Regions from separate parts of the Homo sapiens genome. Here region 1 is linked to region 2. Evidence: fine-mapped expression QTL. A gene starts in region 2. The other region holds a variant in brackets. All regions are shown on one strand. Distances are from middle to middle.

Region 1 (4,398 bases), 38 kb after region 2:
TCAATTGAACTGAGCTTCACAATCTGGCCAGTTTTAAAGACTTTTTTTTTTTTTCAGTGATAAACTGATATCTCCCTGACCAAACTTCTGAATGAGAGAAATGTTTGAAAAGCTCTAAGGCATAATTCAAATAAGACCTTAATATCAGAGAAAAAGTGAAACTTACAAATCTGTGGTCAGAAAAATCACTAAAGAATAACAAATGAAACTCCTACCGAACAGTAGAGTTTCAATTTCAGCCCTTTCAATTTAGGAATGTGTGTAGCTCAAATAATGTCTCAATCCTCAAGAAAGCCAGAAAGATTCAGACTTGAGAGGAGCCTTTCCAGAGATCGTTGTTGACTCCAGCAAGGTTGGATAAACTACTGGCACCAGTTCTCTAGTTGTCAGTGAAGTGACAGTGATCACTGGAGGTCTGCTTTAGGTCCCGTTTGGGTCACCAAAATGTCAACCTTAAGAATGAGATGCAGAAAATATGATTAAGCATAGAGTTTATTTGAGCTCAAAGATTGAAGATGGCCACCCAAAAGCATAGATTTGAGTTTCCCTGAATACACACTTCTGTTTGCTGTAATTACAAGTGGTTTAAACATTTCTAAAAAATAATTAGAGGCTGGGAGCCGTGGCTCACGCTAGTAATCCCAGCACTTTGGGAGGCCGAGGCGGGCGGATCACAAGGTCAGGAAATCGAGACCATCCTGGCCAACATGGTGAAACCCCGTCTCTACTAAAAATACAAAAAATTAGCCAGGCATGGTGGTGGGCGCCTGTAGTCCCAGCTACTCGGGAGGCTGAGGCAGGAGAATGGCCTAAACCCAGGAGGCGGAGCTTGCAGTGAGCTGAGATCCGGCCACTGCACTCCAGCCTGGGCGACACAGCAAGACTCCGTCTCAAAAAAAAAAAAAAAAAAATTAGAGACAGGGTCTTGCTGGGCCTGAACTCCTGGCCTCAAGCAATCCTCCTGCCTCAGCTTCCCTGAGTGTTGGGATTGTAGGCATGAGCCACTGCACCTGGCCTTACCAGTGGTTTTTAAAGCAAAAAAATAAAAAAGAGGCAATTCCTAAATTGTTTACCAAGATTTTACATTAAAATGACATAAGTTATTGATTGGCTACACATTGTTCTTTGTATCACAAATTTCAGGAACATGAAGATAATGGGCGAGGCAGCTAGTCAAGAACAAAATGCCTTTAAACAATTGCCTGGGTGCAGGGGGCATGACTGAAGCTCCATATTCATGTCTCTCTGGGCCTGATATATTTTGCATACCTCACGTAGATCAGATTGCTCTGAGCTATTTCTCTTTTTCTCATGGATAATAGTATTTTTCTCATAGGGTTTTCATAAAGATTAAATAAGAAATAGCAAATTGCATATAGTGTCTAGTACAGAGTAAGTGTTCAATAACAGTTATGATGAAATGATTACAGTAATTGAGAAGAGAAAGGAGAGATAGGAGAGAGGAGTAAAGTTCCCTAAGAAGGCAAAGATGTATCCCTCCTAAGCGCAGGTAGTGGAATTAACTCTGCATTCACCAGGGGATAGGAAACTTTTCCCTTCACCCTTTGAAGGTTCTCTGAAAACTGACAAAAGGCAGATTAATAGGAGAAAAGGCATACACAATTTTATTTTCACGTGGCTAGCCTGGGGGAATCGCAGAATGGTGACCCAACAACGCACTATTATACAGAAGCTTATGTACCTGTTTTCAGAGGGGAGAGATGTATTGACTTGGGAGGTGGGAGGCAGATGATATAGAAAGGCAAAGGACAGGTTGGGTGCGGTGGCTCATACCTGTAATGTCAGCACTTCGGGAGGCTGAGGTGGACGGATCACCTGAAGTCAGGAGTTTGAGATCCACCTGGCCAACAGGGTAAAACCCTGACTCTACTAAAAATGCAAGAATTAGCCGGATGTGGTGGTGGGCATCTATAATCCCAGCTACTTGGGAGGCTGAGGCAAGAGAATCACTTGAACCCAGGAGGTGGAGGTTGCAGTGAGCCCAGATCTCACCACTGCACTCCAGCCTGGGCAACAGAGTGAGACTCCGTCTCAAAAAAAAAAAAGAAAGGCAAGGACCAGAGCTGCACAGAAACAAAGTCTGTCTTATTATGTAGATAAAGATTTTATGTAGATAAAATCTCTCAGTGCTGCTCTCAGATGAACAGATGAAAAGTCTGTCTGGGTGTGGGGATGACTCCCAGTCTCTTCTCTTCTCTGGTGGTTGATCTTTCCTGGCTATTTGATGAGATTCCTAGGGAGGGAGTCTTAAGACAATTGTATTTAAACTTTCTTCTTCAGATAAGAAATTCCAGAAGGAGTCTTTCTTATTTATTTATTTATTTATTTTTGAGATGGAGTCTCCCTCTGTTGCCTAGGCTGGAGTGCAGTGGCACGATCTTGGCTCATTGCAATCTCCCTCTCCTGGGTTCAAGCGATTCTCCTGCCTCAGACTCCCGAGTAGCTGGGATTACAGGTACCCACCACCACCATGTCTGGCTAATTTTGGTATTTTTAGTAGAGACAGGGTTTCACCATATTAGCCAGGCTGGTCTCGAACTCCTGATCTCAGGTGAGCCACCCGCCTCGGCCTTCCAAAGTGCTGGGATTACAGGTGCGAGCCACCGTGCCTGGCCAAGAATCTTTCTTAGGGTGCTTCTGGAAACAGGATCAGAGAGACAGGAAGGTGGGAGAAGTGGCAGAGAGAGAGAG[A/AGAT]CCTTTGTTCTCAGGCTTATTTTTGAGGATTTTCAAAAGCACTCAGCGTGGCTATATTTGGGGAATCATTTCTGTGCCCCAATACAGGGAAGAAAAGGGAGAAACACACTAGATCTGGATTTTTTTTTAAATTTTTTTTTTTGAGATGGGGTCTTGCTTTGTCACCCAGGCTGGAGTGCAGTGACACAATCATGGCTCACTGCAACCTTGACCTCCTGGGCTCAAGTGATCCTCCCACTTCAGCCTCCCAAGTAGCTGAGACCACAGGTGTGCACCACCACGCCTGGCTAAACTACTTTTTGTAGAGATGGGGCCTCCTTATGTTGCCCATGCTGGTCTCAAACTCCTGGGCTCAAGTGTTCCTCCTGCTTTGGCCTCCAAAGTTTTGGGATTACAGGCGTGAGCCACTGCGCCTGGCCTAGATCTAGAATCTAAAGCACTTGGCAACTTGAGAATAAGAAAGAGCAGTCAAAGTTGATTATAAAATTTTGAGGCAAGCTGGGTGTGGTGGCACCTGAGTAGTCGGAAACTGTAATTCCAGCTATTCAAGAGAGCACCTTGAGTAGGTGGAACCTGTAATTCCAGCTACTCAAGAGGCTGGAATACATACATTCTAGCTACTCAAGAGGCTGGAATACATACATTCCAGATAAGAAATTCCAGAAAGAGCCTTTCTTATTTATTTATTTATTTATTTTTGATTTATTTTTATTTTATATGTATATATATTTGATGCTAACTGCAAGAGTGGTGTCAATAACAAAAACAGATAAGTAGTTTTCTCTATTTTTTTGGACTACTTTGATGGAAGATAATACATTTTATTTCAACTGTTAAAGTAGGAAATGCTTATAAGACATCCAGATGGAGATATTAAACAATGAGAATGAAGGCCAGGAGATCCAAAGGGGACTTGAAACTGGAGAGAGATTTGAAATAATCTACTTGGTGTTAATAATGATGCTATGGGAGCAAGAGAATTTATTAATTTTGTATTGCTAGTGTATTCTGTACGTGCTGGTCTTGCACATAGCAGGTGTTCAATGAACATGTTTTATTGTTGTTGTTTAAAAAGAAAACAGAATTATCTAGATAATCTACATTTAGGAGAAGAATGAAGACTTGATTGAGGACCCAAAGGATGACCAAGAAGAGGTACAGGAGAAAACCCAGAATTCTGCAGGGTCTTGGCGATGCAAGTGTCAGAGCCATTTGAACCAGAGCTACTCCATCTTGAGTGAGGGCTAAGAAAACTGAGGCTGGGACTTGCTGGGCTGCATTCCCAGGAGGGTAAGTATTCCTAGCCTCTAGGTTAACGGAACAGATTAATAACGTTTACTAACAGACCCAGACTCAGGAATGTCCTGATATCCTGATGTCTTAAAAACAAAAGCACTCCTAATTTTGCTTTAAAGATAAATATCGATCCTTGCAAAATATAGTAATTAAGAAAACTAATTGTTTAAATCACAAACCTTTGTAGTAGAGCAAATCTCCCCATTTTTTTGTTATCCTATATATAAATAAGCATTGTACCTAGGGGTAGGCGCGTTCCTCCTCTTACTTTCAGGAACGCCCTACTCTGTCTATAGAGTAGCTATTCCTTCACCACTTTACTTCCTTAATAAATTTGCTTTTGCTTTGCACTGTGGACTTGCCCCAAATTCTTTCTTCGGTGAGATCCAA
Region 2 (4,398 bases):
TCGTCTCAAAAAAAAAAAAAATTCAGCTGCCTACAGAAAGAACATAATTCTTCAAATGTATGAATAACATATTAAAATAAATAAAAACAGCACTGCTTCCTACCTGTTCAACATATATAATTAACTGAAGCATATGAGTAGGAGTACAACTAACAAATATATCAATTGAATGAGTTAAGTCAGTTATTTTCTAGAAAGTATCTAGAATCTAGAATTGAGTGTGTAAACAAGCTCTTGAAAGCTATGAAAACATACAAACTTAAGGCGGTTCATAAAGTCATTTTCTAAAGTTTGAAGAAAATATTATTATCTTGTATAATTCTTTAACTTTAAGGATCTAGATATCCAAGGAAGTCAAGTAACTTAATCACGACTATTCAGTCGGCTGGATGGAGACAGAGCTGGTATTAGAATGTAAGTTGCCTGTTCAGGACTCAGTAATTTTCACTCTCAATTGTGCAATCACTTTTCAAAAATGCTTCCCGTTTAGCTGAGATCCTAAAGGAAGAAAAGTTCAAGTATTAATAGACCAAGAAAGTAGGGCTGGTGAAAAGCTCTACAGTTATATTAAATGGTGACAATTATATTAAGCAAGAAAGGCAAGGAACAAAATAGAATCTCAATTACATTTAAAAAATATTCTACAATATAAGGTATACATGTAAAAAAAAAAAAGCACATAGAGTATTTTTTAAAAAGAAAGTTAAATAAGAAACATACCAAAATGTGCCGAGCACAGTGGCTCACGCCTGTAATCCTACCACTTTGGGAGGCCGAGGCGGGCAGATCATCTGAGGTCAGGAGTTCGAGACCAGCCTGGCCAACATGGGAAAACCCCATCTCTACTAAAAATACCAAAAAAATTAGCTGAGCGTGATGGCACACACCTGTAGTCCTAGCTGCTCGGGAAGCTGAGGCAGGATAATCGCTTGAACCTGGGAGGCGAAGGTTGCAGTGAACTGAGATCGCACCACTGCAACCAGCGTGGGCGACAAAGCAACACGCTGTCTCAAAAAAAAAAAAAAAAAAAGAAACATACCAAAATGTTAATAAAATGATCTCTAGTTGTGAGATTATGAATACCTTTTGCTTGCTATTTTTTCTACTTTTCAGTGTTTTCCAAGTTTCTTGCACATGTAGCATGGAATACTTTCCTAATCATAAAAAAAGATTAGTTTAAAAAATTACAGGTTAGGTGAAATTGGCTGTGTACAATAATTTTCTGTTCTCCTCCCCTCCAACAGAGATAATCAAGAGCTAACAAAAGTACACAATGGTCTTACTGAGTAAGAAAGGGAGAATATAAAGTGTTCTAAGAAAACTCTAAGGTTCAAAGTTGAAATAAGGGTCAAGCCACGCACAGTAGCATGCACCTATTGTCCCAGCTACCCAGGAGACTGAGGCAGGAGGATCACTTGAGCCAAGGAGTTCAAGGCCAGCCTGGGCAACACAGTGAGACTCAACTCAAAAAAAGAAGGATCAACATTTATCAAAATCAAACTTTACTGTCTCCAGTGATCCTACTATGCTAGGAGGTGCATTGATATATTAGCTCATTTGTTCACTATAAGTCTGTTAACTTAGCATTATCACCTAGGAAATAAAATAGTCAGAATGGTCTTTAAAATATTCAGTTTCCAGAGTTCTACTGATAGATTTTAGGATACTGCATCACATTATTAAAAGAACTGTTGAAGAAAGCACCAATGGCCAGCTGTCACAAACGTTACACTCCACCACCCCCGTATTTCAAGCACGTTAGAGAAAGTGTATCCATTTGCTAACAGACAGAATAAAAGGATGACAAATATATGTTTGTACGAATACTTATTGCTAAAATTTCCATTTTAGGAACAGTAGTAGAATGCATAATTTTCAAGGTCATGAATCTCAACATTAAGGAAAACAAAACAAAACAAGATGTTTACTCTCCAAGGTTAACTACACCTGAGAACAGCACGACTTCTCCATTACCCATCACAGTAACAGTATTACTCTGATGCTTTGGGGAAAGTTCTGAGTGTAGGCAGGTCAGAAGCGACAGCCCGCGGGGCAGCAGCACGGGCAAACCATGCTGTGTAACTCAGTATATGGAGTGATTCCATAAAGAGGCAATACAGGAGGCGGCGGGGAAGATCAGGAAAGAACTGTGAGTACCTAAGAAAAAGAAGAATACACGTTAGCTCTCTTTACTGAGGTCGGAACCTTCCGAGACCCGCCACATTTCAGCCCGACAAACCCGAGATCACGTTCACTTCCTGGTTCACTTCTTCCGGGTTAACGCACGCTCCCGGCCCCTCCTCCGCCACTACCGCTCTCCGGAGGAGTTGTCCTCGAGCATGCCTAACAATGGACTAAAATGACAAAAATGAGCTAAATGAGAAAAATGACAAAACGAGAATGAAATTGTCATCAGACAACCGCCCCCGCGCCGTCCTTATCCAGAGCGTGAGCCCAGAGCGGGGATGGAGATGGTGGGAGGGAGGGAGGGAGGGAGGGGCCAAGGTGGGACTAAACTACAACTCCCAGAGCGCCCACCAAAGAATCCTGGGAGTTGTAGTTTACCTTGCGGCAGCCTCCAACCCCCTCCACTCACTATCCAGCCAAATGTGGAGTTTTTGGTTTTCACCGTTAACTGCAAACCTAGAAGAGAGATTCTTTACGATTCTGATTAAGAGATCAAGATTTAGAACACATTGCATGTGAAATTACAATAATTTCCTTATGTATTAGAAGCCCGTAAAGCACTGTTTTCCAATATTTAAAAAAAATAAAGACTCCTTTTACATCATCCACAAATGTAGAAGATTCTGCGTGTAATTTCTATACTTTCAGCTTCCATTGCTTCAGAAAATACCTAATGACTAAAGGATAATACAAATAAATTTATATTTTAAAAGTAGTAACAGCCCCAAAAGTTAGGAGACCGTGTATTTCCACATGTTAGTGATTTTATAATGTTCTTTGCACATGGGAATGTAGGGGCTCAACCTAGATTCATAGCTTATGAACCACTGATTAAGTGAAGAATGAAAACTCCAGTTAATAAACAATTGCAGGAAAATGCAAGCATATTGTCCTACTTTGACTAATCCAGTGGGATCCAGCCCTTGGCTATCGCAATTTACAGTCTTTCTATCTCCATGCCTCAATTTTTCTTCCTGAAAGAAAAGGCAAAAAATGTACCATATTACTGACTTTACAGAGTATTTTCTTAGATTATAATCACATACATAGATAGGAGAATTAGCTATATATGCAAAATAATATCTAACGTTTATAGCCAACTTCAAGGTACCTACTTCTATGTACTATGTACTAAATACTGTTCTAAATGGTTTTACCCTATTAATTCATTTAATTTTTACAACCTTAAAATACTTATTTTGCAGAGGAGAAAATTAAGGCACACAGAGCTAAAGTAACTACTCCAAGGTAAAAAACAGTAAGTGATAGAGCCAAGACTCAATTAAGGCAATGGCTTTAATGATCTGTGGCTCCTAAGCTCTGATATAGGGCCACCCTGCTCCAAAAAAGAAAAAACCTTCAATCATGTATTCAATAAATAGTGAACACCAGTTATGTGCTATTCACTATTCTAGTCATGAGGATTTAGCAATGAACAGAAAAGACAAAAACCTTTGCCCACATGGAGCTTATGTTCCAGTAGGGGAAAAGTTTCAAAGGGTCTACATAAAGTCATTCTCCTAAGTTATCCAAAAAGTTCTTTAATTATTTATTCTGATTTGTGCTTTCAGCTATATAACTTGAGTATTATATATAAAGCTTTATTCTCCTTAAAAAATTAGTCTTAGTCGGGCGTGGTGGTTCACGCCTGTAATCCTAGCACTTTGGGAGGCCGAGCCAGGTGGATCACCTGAGGTCAGGAGTTCGAAACCAGCCTGACCAACATGGAGAAACCCCATCTCTACTAAAAATACAAAATTAGCTGGGCGTGGTGGCTCATGCTTGTAATCCTAGCTACTCGGAGGCTGAGGCAGGAGAATCGCTTGAACCCAGGAGACAGAGGTGGCAGTGAGCCAAGATTGCACCATTGCACTCCAGCCTGGGCAACAAGAGTGAAACTCCGTCTCAAAAAAAAAAAAAAGTAGTCTTACTGCTATGGACTGAATTGTTTATATTCATAATCATGTGCATATTACTAATATTTATTTTTAAAATTCATATATTGAAGCCCTAACCCCTCCAATACATGTGTCTGTATTGGAGATAGGGCCTTTAAGGTGATTAAGGTCAGATGAGGTCGTAAGAGTAGAGCCCTGACATAATAGGATTAGTGCCTTTCTAAAAAGGCACCAGAGATCTTGCTCACTGTCCCTGCCCAAACAAAGAAGAGGTTACGTGAGTACACTGTGAGATGGTGGCCACCTACAAGCC

Which allele goes with the higher level. Positions count from the first base shown, and alleles are read on the strand shown. Sizes are in standard deviations (SD) of each study's normalised expression.
For the expression in cerebellar hemisphere of the gene that starts at base 2,249 in region 2, AGAT is the high allele of the variant in region 1 and A is the other (moderate effect, 0.44 SD a copy in GTEx).

Evidence for each region. PIP is the estimated chance that this variant, and not a neighbour inherited with it, causes the effect. A credible set is the group of variants that fine-mapping cannot tell apart.
Region 1: its variant is the best candidate, but not a certain one, in a credible set for the expression of MTRF1 in cerebellar hemisphere (GTEx, PIP 0.86).

Annotation. Positions count from the first base shown.
Region 1 is chr13:41,299,694-41,304,091 of GRCh38, forward strand. LOC105370173 (a long non-coding RNA gene) reads left to right here. Exons shown (of 3, transcript XR_001749846.2): 3 at 3,820-4,358. It also overlaps a transcript of MTRF1 not described here. Among named protein-coding and RNA genes, the nearest start is that of NAA16, 9.4 kb to the right of the region's middle. The variant A/AGAT (reference allele first, on the strand shown) is at 2,713.
Region 2 is chr13:41,261,328-41,265,725 of GRCh38, forward strand. MTRF1 (mitochondrial translation release factor 1) reads right to left here and starts at 2,249. Exons shown (of 10, transcript NM_004294.4): 1 at 2,158-2,249. RefSeq lists an enhancer at 1,667-2,167 and a silencer at 2,455-2,544.